3 separate regions of the Homo sapiens genome follow, and regions 1 and 2 are each linked to region 3. Evidence: fine-mapped expression QTL. A gene starts in region 3. Each other region holds a variant in brackets. All regions are shown on one strand. Distances are between the middles of the regions.

Region 1 (4,236 bases), 190 kb after region 3:
AAGGAGGTTTCAATCACAGAGTTGACAAGAATTTCATGCCAGGTTCTGGACAGAAATATAGTTATAATTAAGCATGAGGCTTAATTATAGGCTGCATTTTGGCCTACTTACTTGTAACTGAAAGTCACATAGCACTGGATACTGACCATTTGCATCCACATTGTTTCTATAGATGGGATTTCGGATGTTGGAATCATGAGGCTTTTGTTTAAGAGTTGCTTAAGATGTTCTTCAGATCCTGAATTCCAGCAGAACAGCTGACATCCACAACCAGTTTGAGGATCCCCACAGAAGAGCTGAATCAACATGAGAATGCAGTTTCTTCATCTCTCCAGTCCATGACTTCACCCTGCAATCCCCACAGAAGAGCTGAATCAACATGAGAATGCAGTTTCTTCATCTCTCCAGTCCATGACTTCACCCTGCAATCCCCACACCTCAGCCCACTCCAAACCCCTTACAAACTCCTCAGGGAGGCAAATCTGAGGTTTCCTTCCATCTCCTTGTTCAGATGCCCTATGATTATTAAACCCTTTCTCTGCTGCAATCCTTGAGGTCAGTGTGTCCACTTGCCATGCTTTAGGTAAGGAACCTGTTACAGTCACACTTCCATGTCCTCTTCCACGGTGCCACTCTCCCACCACATCAATGTTACCAACCCAGAAGCTCTCTAAATTTCACTGTTCAAGAGTATTTATCAAAGCTTTGTTTTGTAGGTGTGTTTGATCAAATCATTGGCCATTGGTGATTGAGCTCAATCTCCAGCCTTTCTCCCCTCCCGGGAGGTTGGAGGGTGGGGTTAAATGTTCAACCCTCTGATCCCATGTTTGGTCTTTCTGGGGACCAGTCCCCAACCTAAATCTATCTAAGGCCACCCTGAGTCACCTCATTAACATAAACTCTAGTATGGTCAAAAGGAGCTCATTATGAATAACAAAAGATACACCTATCACTCAAGAAATTCTAATAATTTAGGAGCTCTGTGCCAGGAACTGGAGGCAAATAAAGACCAACTATATTATACCACAACTCAACACCATTAATTTGATTTATAAAGCTATGAAGTTAGACAGTGAGACAAACTTTCCTGAACCATGTACGCAAAGACCACCCCCAAAATTTCCCCCAAAGTTACTTCCCGAAGAAGCTTTGTCAAAATTTCCATTAGAAGTTATTTTCGGCCAGATGCAGTGGCTCATGCCTGTAATCCCAGCAATTTGGGAGGCCGAGGCAGGCAGATCATGAGGTCAGGACTTCAAGACCAGCGTGACCAACATGGTGAAACCCTGTCTCTACTAAAAATACAAAAATTAGCCGGGCGTGGTGGCGCATGCCTGTAATCCCAGCTACTCGGGAGGCTGAGGCAGGAGAATCGCTTGAACCTGGGAGGCGGAGGTTGCAGTGAGCCGAGACTGTGCCATCACACTCCAGCCTGGGCAACAGAGCGAGACTCCATCTCAAAGAAAAAAAAAGTTATTTTCAGTTCCTTGGCCCAAGATTCCTTGCAGCAATCCTTTCATTTTTGCTTTGCTACAATCAAAACAAGGAAAAAATTATGAAGAATATTAAAAGAGACTTTCCTGTAGTGTATGCATAAGTCGTTATCATGAAATTTGAAGTTGGGTGTGATTAATTACTATTTAGATTACACTATTCAGCATTAGATATATAATTTATTGACTATGGAGTAAGAGGTTGCTATTCCATATTTGTAAAATAGAAGAATTGGAGTCTCTGGATGATTTTAAAGTTCCTTCCAGTTTTTTGCTTCTTTCATTTTAATAAATACCCAGCATTCATTAAATCATGGGCTTCAGGGCCTTAGACACTTCATCGCCTTCTTACAGGTTCAAAAGGGAAAATCAGATTCCATCTACATCATTTTAATTGATGACACCATTTTGGAGAATATAAATCAATTGAGTTGTATGGACTTCCTATGGCTATGTCTTTATCATGGTATAACTTATGTTTAAATGGTTCTGAGAAAAGAAAAACAGCTCAAAGAGCTCTCAGCTCTGTGAGGTTTGCAGGCCCAGAGAGACACAGTGCAGGGC[T/C]TGCAGTCATCCCCTACTCATGCCTGGGGGTATTGTTTAAAGTCATTTTGTTCCTAACTAGCTGCCTCTCCTGCTGTCTTCATGTTCCTGGAATTCATGATACCAAGGACAGTATATAGCCAATCAATAGCTTATTTTATTTATCTTTTTTTTCTTTTTTTTTTTAAGAGACAGGGTCTCACTATGTTGCCCAGGCTGGTCTTGAACTCCTGAGCTAAAGCAATCTTTCCCACCTTGGCCTCCCAAAGTGTAGGATTACAGGCATAAACCACCATGCCCAACCTACTTATGTTATTTGAATAGAAATTATTTTCCTTTTTGATGAGTAGATTAAAAACGACGACAACAAAAAGAATGGAAATTCTTGGTAACCAACTCAGGAAGTGTCTCTTCTTTTCCTTTAAAAATCCTTGGCCAGGCACGGTGGCTCACACCTGTAATCCCAGCACTTTGGGAGGCCGAGGCAGGCAGATCACCAGAGGTCAGGAGTTCAAGATCAGCCTGGCCAACATGGTAAAATCCTGTCTCTACTAAAAATAAAAAAAAAAATTAGCTGGGCATGGTGGCAGATGCCTGCAGTCCCAGCTACTCAGGAGGCTGACCCACTAGAATTGCTTGAACCCAGGAGGCGGAGGTTGCAGTGAGCTGAGATTGCACCACTGCACTCTAGCTTGGGCAACAGAGTGAGACTCTGTCTCCAAAAAAAAAAAAAAAGTATTTAAAGTGTTTTGATTATTTTCTTTTTGTTTTTTTAATTGGGCAGCCCCAGAACCAGAATAGATCCAGAGAGACCCCCCTGATTTTTTGTAAGTTTCTCTGAAGATGCAGGTTGGCCAGAGCAGATTGTAAAACTGCGGGGTTTAGCAAAGAAATCACTTAAGCCAATTGAGAAGTGATTAAGGAGAAGGTTAATTGAATGAATTAGTAACTTAGTTACTAGAGTAAATTTTTTCTCATTGAAAGAAAACAGTGCCAGACACAGTGGCCCATGCCTGTAATCCCAGCACTTTTGGAAGCTGAGGTAGGAGGATTGCTTGAGGCCAAGAGTTCCAGACCAGCCTAGGCAACATAGTGAGATCCCTGTCTCTGCAAAAACAACTTAAAACATTAGTTGGGCATGGTAGGGCATGCCTGTAGTCCTAGCTACTCAGCAGGCTGAGGTGGGAGAATCACTTAAGCCCGGGAGCATGGGGCTGCAGTGAGCTATGATCATACCACTGCACTCCAACCTGGTTGACAGAGCAAGACACTGTCTCCAAATAGAAGGAAAAGAAGAAAACAAGTTTTTTAAAAAATATATTAAAATAAATAAAAAAGAAAGGAAACAAAGTGGTTAGACAGAGACTTCAGATAGTAGTAGAAGAGAAAAAAGGAGGGTGAGGGGAGAATAATTTTTCCTGAACAGAAAGAAGAAAGAGCAAGGAAAAGAGATATTGGAGAAAGACTTTGCCTTTAAGGACATGGAAGTCATACTCCACAAGATTCTGAATTAATGTACACAATGGGAGAAACCCTGTAATGTCTACTAGGACTTTTAAAGAGTGATTTCTTCCTAGCATGTCATAGGCCTGGAAGCTTTAAAACTGAGGGAAAAAGAAGAATTTTTTTGAAAACTAGAAGAGAAAAATCAAGATTTTGTTATGAAGTGGCAACTAAATGACATAGTAACAAAAATGTGTATCAAGACCTGTTTGACTATTTTAAAAGTTTGTTTGATTTTATATAGTGCCTAAATATGTTGATACATTTGTAATCAGTGTTTCAGTGTAATAAAATGATTAAGAACACAGTCTTCAAGACAGACAAGACTGGATTCTATTATAATTAAGACTGGTAACACAAATTCTCTGAGCCTCAGTTCTTCATTTGTAAAGGCAGAGTAATAATTGATACTAGCCTGCGGAGAGGATTCAATAATGGAAAGAAAGCCTTGACAATGTCTGGTGGGTCCGGATACCCCAGGAAGAACTGATTTCCTCCTGAGTCTTTGGACAAGCAATCAGAATCAAGTAGCTCTCTAGAGCACTGATTGTCAGAGCAGAGCTCTCCTTTAGTCCCATCAAATGCCATGGGATTGTGGAAAGTCTAGAGGTCACCTAGTCCTTTCTCCCCACCGAGGCAGGAATTCACTCTACAATATTGTTACTTGTGCCTGAACATGTCTACTTTGGAGAAATTA
Region 2 (4,236 bases), 130 kb after region 3:
ACAAAAGGAAAAATATAGTATGATTCCACTTACATGGGGTACCTGGAATAGTCAAATTCATAGAGATGGAAAATAGAATGGTGGTCACCAGGGCTGGGTGACAGGGGGATGGGGAATTGTCACTTAATGGGTACAGAGTTTTAGTTTTGCAAGATGAAAAGGGTTCTATGGATGATATTGATGGGCCCAATATTGATGGTAGCACAACAATGTGAAAGTACTAATGTCACTGAATTGTGCACTTAAAAATAGTTAAGATGGTAAATTTTATTATATGTGCATTTTACCACAATTTTTAAAAAAGCAGCTAGCGGCCAGGTGCAGTGGCTCACGCCTGTAATCCCAGCACTTTGGGAGGTCAAGGCAGGCGGATCACGAGGTCAGGAGTTCAAGACCAGCCTGTCCAATATGGTGAAACCCCGTCTCTACTAAAAATACAAAAATTAGCCGGGCATGGTGGTGCGTGCCTGTAGTCCCAGCTACTCAGGAGGCTGAGGCAGAAGAATTGCTTGAACCCGGGAGGCAGAGGTTGCAGTGAGCCAAGATCCCACCACTGCACTCCAGCCTGGGTGACTGAACGAGACTGTGTCTCAAAAAAGAAAAAAAAAAAAAAGCAGCTAGCCCAGTGTTCAGTCTGGCCTTCCAAAACTATGAACTTCTGCCCTCTATTTCTAGCTCCCTGGACTTGCCATCCACTTTTTTCTTTCTTTCTTTCTTGTTTTTTTTTTGTTTGTTTGTTTTTTGTTTTTTGAGACAGAGTCTCACCCTGTTGCCAGGCTGGAGTGCAGTGGTGCGACCTTGGCTCACTGCAACCTCCACCTCCTGGGTTCAAGGGATTCTCCTGCCTCAGCCTCCCGAGTAGCTGGGACTACAGGTGCATGCCACCATGCCCAGCTAATTTTTGTGTTTTTAGTAGATACGGGGTTTCACCATGTTGGCCAGGATGGTCTCGATCTCTTGATCTAGTGATCAGCCCGCCTTAGCCTCCCAAAGTGCTGGGATTACAGGCGTGAGACACCGTGCCCGGCCGCCATCCACTTTTTATATACACCACGCTGTTTTCCACCGTTTCTCACTATGGCCAGCCGATGTCGACTGTGCCTGGCACTGTGCATATACTCTTGTCATCCAGTCCCAGAGGAAGGACTTAATTATAAGACATCCTGGACTCCCACCACCACAGAACCTTCTCATAACACTCCACCCCACAGTATGCTCTGGGATCATCACAACTCTTTGCCAAGCAAACCTGGGAAAGTTCAGCCCTTCCATTACTCCTTGTGGTTGGTGATGGACAAGTGGAGAGAGCCTGAAGCAAAGGAGTTACACATGACCTCCCTCTTAGTGTGCCTGGCACACCATAGGAGAAAAACCTCAACATTCTTTGAGGGTCAAGTTTGGCATTTTAAGAACTATATTTTTTTCTGTCTCTCCAGCCTCTTACTTTTTTTTTTTTTTTTTTTTTTTTGAGACAGAGTCTCATTCTTTTTCCCAGGCTGGAGTGCAGTTGTGTGATCATAGCTCACTGCCACCTCAAATCCCTAGGCAGAAGCAATCCTCCTGCCTCAGCCTCCTGAGTGGCAAGGACTACAGGCACATACCACCACACCTGGCTAATTTTTAAATTTTTTTTGGTAGAGATGGGATCTCATTTTGTTGCCCAGGCTGATCTCAAACTCCTAGGCTCGAGCAGTCCTCCTGCCTCAGGCTCCTCAAGTCCTGGGATTACAGGCATGAGCCACTGCACCTAGCTGCCTCTTGATCTCTGACCAAAGTGCTCATTTCCCATTTTCTGGTCTTAAATCTCCCTTCAGAGTTCATGCTCATCTTCTTACCTATGACTTCAGCTTATCTGTTATTTCAATCCAAATGTCACCTCCAACTGCATAGCCTAAAGCTTGGTGCTAGGGAGTGTCACTCACAGCAGGCCCTTCTGGACTATTATGACATGACTGCG[G/A]TCACATACAGCAAACCTGGGAGGTAGGAGGCAATATAGGTAAGTCCATGCTATCAATTTAGCATTTCGTTGACTGTAATTCATGTTTAGATGAGGCGACTCTCTTAGCCCATTTGGGTTGCTATAACAACAGAAATGTATTTCTCACAGTTATGGAGGCTGGGAAATCCAAGATCAAGGCACTGGAGGATTTGGCCAGATATGGTGACTCACACCTATAATCCCAGAACTTTGGGAGGCTGAGGGACAACTGAGCTCCTTCAGGACTCTTTTATGATGACACTAATCCCTTTAGTTCTCATGACCTAATCACCTCCCAACAGCCCACCTTCTAATACCATCACTTTAGGGGTTAGGATTTCGACATATGAATATTAGGGGGATACAAACATTCCAACCATAGCAGTGACCAAGTTAAAAATTTGGGTCATAGGCTAGGCGCAGAGGCTCAAGCCTGTAATCCCAGAACTCTGGGAGGCTGAGGTGGACAGATCACTTGAGGGCGGGAGTTTGAGACTAGCCTGACCGACATGGAGAAACCCCGTCTCTACTAAAAATACAAAAATTAGCCAGTCATGGTGGTGCATCCCTGTAATCCCAGCTACTCGGGAGGCTGAGGCAGGAGAATCACTTGAACCTGGGAGGAGGAGGTTGCGGTGAGCCGAGATTGCGCCATTGTACTCCAGCTTGGGCAACAAGAGCGAAACTCCGTCTCAAAAAATAAAAATAAAAAATAAATAAATAAATAAATTGGGTTGTATTAAAAGAGGTCCTGGCCGGGTGTGGTGGCTCATGCCTGTAATCCCAGCACTTTGGGAGGCCGAGGTGGACGGATCATGAGGTCAGGAGTTCAAGACCAGCCTAGCCAACATGGTAAAACCCCCTCTCTACTGAAAACATAAAAAATTAGCTGGGTGTGGTGGCAGGCGCCTGTAATCTCAGCTACTTGGGAGGCTGAGGCAGGAGAATTGCTTGAACCTGGGAGGCAGCGAGCCAAGACTGCACCACTGCACTCCAGCCTGGGTGACAGAACAAGACTCAGTCTCAAAAAAAATATAAAATAAAATAAAAGAGGTCCTATATACTTTTGTTTTTACCCTTTTGTTAAGGTTAAAAAAAAGTTTTTTGTTGTTGTTGTTAGTTACTTGTCTCTGGCCCCTCTACTCTGGAATTAACCACCTGTCTTAATTTTCCTAGATCCTTTTTATAAGGTGGTTTGCAGACTATTAGCGTTAACATCACCAGGAGAGGCTGTTAGCAATTCGACCTCGCAATCTCCAACTCAGGCCTAGCAAATCAAGATCTGCAGCTTAATAAGATCCCCAGGTGATCTGTATTACATTAAAATTAGAACCGTTCCAGAAAGATTCTAACTGCTCTTGTTGGAACAATGGGTCTCTACCCTCATTGTTTATTGGAAGAACCTGAGAAGCTTTTAACACATACTGATTTGGCTTGGCACAGTGGCTCATGCCTATAATCCCAGCACTTTGGGAGGAGGAGAATTGCTTAAGACCAGGAGTTTGAGACCAGCCTGGGCAACATAGCAAGATTCCATCTCTACACACACCCCCAACCCCCCACCACCCCCAGGCAAAAAAATAAGTCCAGCATGGTGGCATGCGCCTGTAGTCCCAGCTATTTGGGAGGCTGAGGTGGGAAGATTGTTGGAGCCCGGGAGTTCAAGGCTGCAGTGAGCCATGATTGCTCTGCTGCACTGCATCCTAGGCAACAGAGTGAGACCCTGTCTCTCTCTAAAAGCAATAAGCAAACCTACTGATTCCTGTGATCCACCACCAGATTCTGATTTCATCTATCTATGGGAGGCCTAGGCATTGGTGTGTGTTATGTTTTTGCATTTTTTGTGTCTGTTTTTGTTTGTTTGTTTCCTCTGTACAGATGATGTTTTTTATTCTCTAGGAGATTTTGATGGTTAGCCAGGCTTGAGAACCACTGAGTTATGACTAAGAGAAAAATATCATGGAGAATACCATGGATAGTGAGCTCGTTTACAGTTGTAAAAAACAGAGTCAGATTATTAAATTTGAGTAGGTCTTAACCTTAATATATGACTATTAATGTGAAATTACAGATTGTATGTAGAAGCAATTTCTCCCCTAAAATCTTCCTCTCTGATTCTTTATATTTCTCTTGTTTTCTATTTCCTTAGTCCCTAGGGTATGTGTCTCAACAGCTCTTAACCTCTATTAAATAGTGTCCAGGGCTTCCAACCAAGTCTCGTGAGAGGGTCATGCTCCTGTCCCAGTGCCCAGAGCTGG
Region 3 (4,236 bases):
AAATCAGAACCCTCATATACTGCTTATGGGAACATAAAATGGTACTACCACTTTAGAAAAGTGTATGGCAGTTCTTCTAACTATTAAACGCAGTTACAGTATAATCTTATGACCTACCAATTCCATTCCTAGGTATAATCTAGGAGAAGTGAAAATAAATGCCCACATAAAAACTTACATGGAAATGTTTATAGCAGCATTATTTATAATAGCTAAAAGGTAGAAACACCAATGTCTAACAACTGATAAACGGATACGTAAAATGTGGTAATTGATACAATGCAATATTATTCAACTTTATAAAGGAATTCTGATGCATGTGACAACATGGATGAACCTTGAAAACACGCAAAGTGAAAAAGCCAGTTACAAAAGACCATATATTATATGATTCCATTTATATGAAAAGTACAGAATAGGTGAATCTACAGACAGAAAACAGACTAGTGGTTGCTTAGGGCTGAGGGTAATGGTGGTACTGAGGTGACTGCTTAAAGGTACATGGTTCTGTTTTGAAGTGATGAAAATGCTCTAAAATTAACTGTGGTAGTGATTACATGTATCTGTGAATGCATTAAATATTATTGAACTGTACACTTTAAATGGGTAAATATATGGTATGTGAATTATATCCTAATAAAGCCTATAAAAAAAGCTCATTTTTTTAAAAATGCAAACTGATGTATGTTTAGAATATGCTTTAAAAGAGGTCATGCAAAAGGAAAAGTGGGTTAGATAAAGCAAATGTGGCAAATCTTGATAGTTTTTGAATCTGGGTAATGAGTATATGGGGATGCATTGTGGCTTTCCTTCCCCCCTCATGTTGGACAGTTGTGGATGAGGCTGACTGTTAAACATTTTGGATCTCTAAATACTAGGCTTTTGTTTGAAAAAATTTCTCTAAAAAAAAAAAAAAAAGGCAAGTACTTCCAAAACACAATCCATCAATTCTCCAAAGCAGCATCTAATTATTTGATTGGCAACTGGATTTCTTGACTGTGGTATAAGTAGACTAAACACTAAACAGTACTCTGAACAATCTGTGGTTTTGCCTGCACTGTAGTTTTGCTTTAAGTTGGTATTTACAAAAATGACACCTGCAACTTTAGATTTAACAAGATTTTAAAATTACATGCATTTTTTACTGCCTAGTCTTATTTCGGACCCATTTTTTTCATTCTATTTCACTAGGCACTAATGTAGGCATGTGGTTCTATACAAATTATAGTTAAGATCAACAGTGAGGTGAATTACAGCAAAATTATCAATAAAAAGTTACCTGCTGACACAGCGCCGATAATTGTCAAAATATATTCTTCCTCTCTCATAGGCTATAGGTGACCTGGAATGAGTTGTCCAGACATTCTTAAATTTAGTACTTTCCTAAAAGACATAAAGAATTTCCGTTCAGGAAAGAACTCTTAGGCTTTAAGTTAGATTTTAAATTTTCAAAGCAACATAATGTCACCTATATTATTTTAAAACTTTTTGCATCCTTCCTCCACTCTGCCCTCATGTTTTGGCTTAATGAGGTGACCAACTTTTAGAATAATTGTTTCCAGGTAAGACATAAGAAGCGTAAAACTAAAAGCAGCTGGTGGCCCTATTACCACCTATCCCAGATTCCGGGCTTGTATCCTCCTCCCCATCACATGTGACCCTATAAAGGGAGGCCCCAGCGCGTTAAAACCGCATCCCCGCAGGAGGCTCGGCCGCCGCGCGCCCGCGGCCCTCCGTCCCGCCCCGGCCGGCTGGCGGTCACCTGGCACACCAGCGCCCGCAGGATGCCCAGGTTGGTCCTCTGCACCACGCCTGCGTCGCGCGAGAAGCAGCCCAGCGCCCGGCGACTCAGCCGGCTGCACACGTTGGGCTTCCGGGTCGGGCCCATGGAGGCGCGGGCCGGGCCCTGGGTAGGCTGGGCCGCCGAGTGGCGCGCCCCACACTCCCGTGCTGGGCAGCCGCCGCTGCCTTCGAATTTCGAGGCCCAGACTTTCCCGGCGGGGCCCAGGGAAAGCTGACACGGGGAGGCGGGCAGGGAGCACCCGACGGCGGGGCGAGGGAAAGCAGAGCCGCTTGCACCGCCAGAGCGCGGAGAGAAGGGAAGAAGCACTCCCTTTTCGATCTGCCCCAGGCTCTCTGGCCGCTGACAGTGCGACGCTCCGGTACCGCGCGGCCGGCCGGAGCCGCTCTCTCACCGGGAAATGTAGTTCCTAGTGCCTCGTGAGGCAGCCCGGCTTCTCCCAGGAACTACAATTCCCGTCAGGCGGCGGGGAGCGAGGGCTTGCCCGGCCCTGCCTCTGCCTGCCGCGGCCCCGCCTCCTCCGGCCCGCGGAGGCTGCGCTGTCTTGCGGGCGCGCTTCTCTGTGCTGCGAGTGGCTAGCTGGGCAGAGCCCTGGGGGCGCGGTGCTGCCGCCTCCAGGTCTCCGCCCCGTGTGTGCGCCCTGCACTTAGGGATCCCTCCCTCACTGCCCCGGTACTCACAAGCTTCTCGGCCCCGACCTTCGCCCTGGGAGGTTCTGGCCAGGTGCCGGGAGGGGCGCTGTGTCGAGGGCGATCCCCCCAAAGCAGCGTCCCGTGCTAAAGGTACGCCCCGCGGCTTTCCCTTCAGCCGCATGTTGGCTGAGGGGGACGGTAAACTGTGCTTTTGTATTAGGAAGATGCTGGCTTCCCATTCACTCTTAGTTTCACCCTCCAAACTGGGATTGAGTTACTCTTTCCCGGAGGCTTGTCCTTGGGTGGCCTGCGGGGACACTGACTGGTTTTGCGATAATTGCTTCATTTCATTTCCTCTCGCCTCCATTCTTTTTTCTTTATAGGGAATAAAATATGAAATGCTTACATTCTTATTGGACGGCCTAAGATATTCCTCGTCGATGTCTCTAAGTAAAAGATATACTTTGTTAACTAGCCCTGCCTGTATGTTCAAAGTTCCCAGCACACTAAACTTTCAGCAAGCTTGCACCACATGTGTCCCACCGCCATGCTCTAAGTCCCTTAAGGGTGGGGCCGCTGTATCTCCCACGTGGACTTGGGCATGCTACCTCTTGTTCATAGGTGCTCAAAGAAAGCCAGCGATCGCACCTGACTGGCAGAGCAAAAAGTACAGTACAGCAGGTCCTTGAATCGCATTTTTTCGTTCAGTGTCATTTTGTATAACTTGATGAGAAAAAATAATAATTTCCTACCGGGGCTACTGTTTGTGTGGATCTTGCCCCTTCTCCCCACGTCTGCATGGGTTTTCACCAGGTACCCCAGGGTACTGCCTCCCACATCTCAGTGCAGGCTGGATGAATTGGCCTTGTCTGTGTTTCCTGTCTGAGTGTGAGTGTGAGTGCTCCCTGCGATGGAATGTCGTCGTGTCCAAGGGTTGGTTCCCACCTTGCACCCTGAGCTGAGGGGATAGGCTTCAGCCACCCTCGACCCTGAACTGGAATAATTAGGTAAATAACTATCTTACTTGTTTTTATTAATCTTCCTTAAATGTATGTATAGCTCCCATTTATTTCAATGTTTAATATTAGAAGTGTTTTGGTTTGTATTTAGGAGTTTGGTGATGTTTTTGTGACCAGAAATATGTTATAGGAACTTAACTTTTGTTTATATCAATTGGCCTATGGTAAAAATGGTTTTGTTATATGTCATTTTGCTTACAGTCAGTTTCCAAAAATCTGTTGATGACATTAAGTGAGTACTTACAGTACTGGGTGAGTGTGTTGGGTCACAGTTTAAGTGTTTAGTAAACATTGGCCATATCTCTTTTTAACCCTGCTGAATTTCCTTCAGGGCTCGAGCTTTTGCTGATTTTTCATGACTTATTTACAGCATACGGTAGAGTGCTTTGTATATTTTTAGAGAGTGCTACAATAGTTAATTTGGTAATTCATGAATGCAGCTGTCACTGAGAAAACTGGAACCCAGAAAAGATAACTGGGTTTTCTTTGGCTTAAATGAAATTCAAATCATTTCTGAATTGAATTCATCAACTCTCTCATTTCTCTTTCCTCTTTGCCCCCACTTGTTTGTCTTCTTTCTTGTGGCCTTTATTTCACCACCAAGTCGTCACCAAGGGAGAGTCATCCTGGATGCCTTGCTGTTCCTCACCCACAACCAAGTCCTTTAGACTCTTATCCATCTCATCTTCATTTCACCTAAGTAATTTAGGGCCTCACCATTTTTTATCACATTATTAAGTAGTCTCTTAATTTCTGCCTTACTTGTGACACAGGATTTTTTTTT

Direction of the effects. Positions count from the first base shown, and alleles are read on the strand shown. Sizes are in standard deviations (SD) of each study's normalised expression. Not every link is listed here.
For the expression in esophagus mucosa of the gene that starts at base 2,476 in region 3, G is the low allele of the variant in region 2 and A is the other (small effect, 0.16 SD a copy in GTEx).

The links. PIP is the estimated chance that this variant, and not a neighbour inherited with it, causes the effect.
Region 1: its variant is the best candidate, but not a certain one, in a credible set for the expression of METTL8 in blood mononuclear cells (TOPMed, PIP 0.55).
Region 2: its variant is the best candidate, but not a certain one, in a credible set for the expression of METTL8 in esophagus mucosa (GTEx, PIP 0.50).

Annotation. Positions count from the first base shown.
Region 1 is chr2:171,240,944-171,245,179 of GRCh38, reverse strand. It overlaps LOC107983995 (a long non-coding RNA gene), which reads left to right. Exons shown (of 3, transcript XR_923576.2): 3 at 173-547. Among named protein-coding and RNA genes, the nearest start is that of TLK1, 82 kb to the right of the region's middle. RefSeq lists an enhancer at 1-877. The variant T/C (reference allele first, on the strand shown) is at 2,058.
Region 2 is chr2:171,301,645-171,305,880 of GRCh38, reverse strand. No RefSeq gene overlaps it. Among named protein-coding and RNA genes, the nearest start is that of METTL8, 130 kb to the left of the region's middle. The variant G/A (reference allele first, on the strand shown) is at 1,958.
Region 3 is chr2:171,432,230-171,436,465 of GRCh38, reverse strand. It overlaps METTL8 (methyltransferase 8, tRNA N3-cytidine), which reads left to right and starts at 2,476. Exons shown (of 10, transcript NM_001321154.2): 1 at 2,476-2,583. DCAF17 (DDB1 and CUL4 associated factor 17) reads right to left here and starts at 2,240. Exons shown (of 14, transcript NM_025000.4): 1 at 1,763-2,240; 2 at 1,280-1,383. The coding sequence starts at 1,888. RefSeq lists enhancers at 1,414-1,973, 2,793-2,862, 2,535-3,095, 3,073-3,242 and a silencer at 1,573-2,482.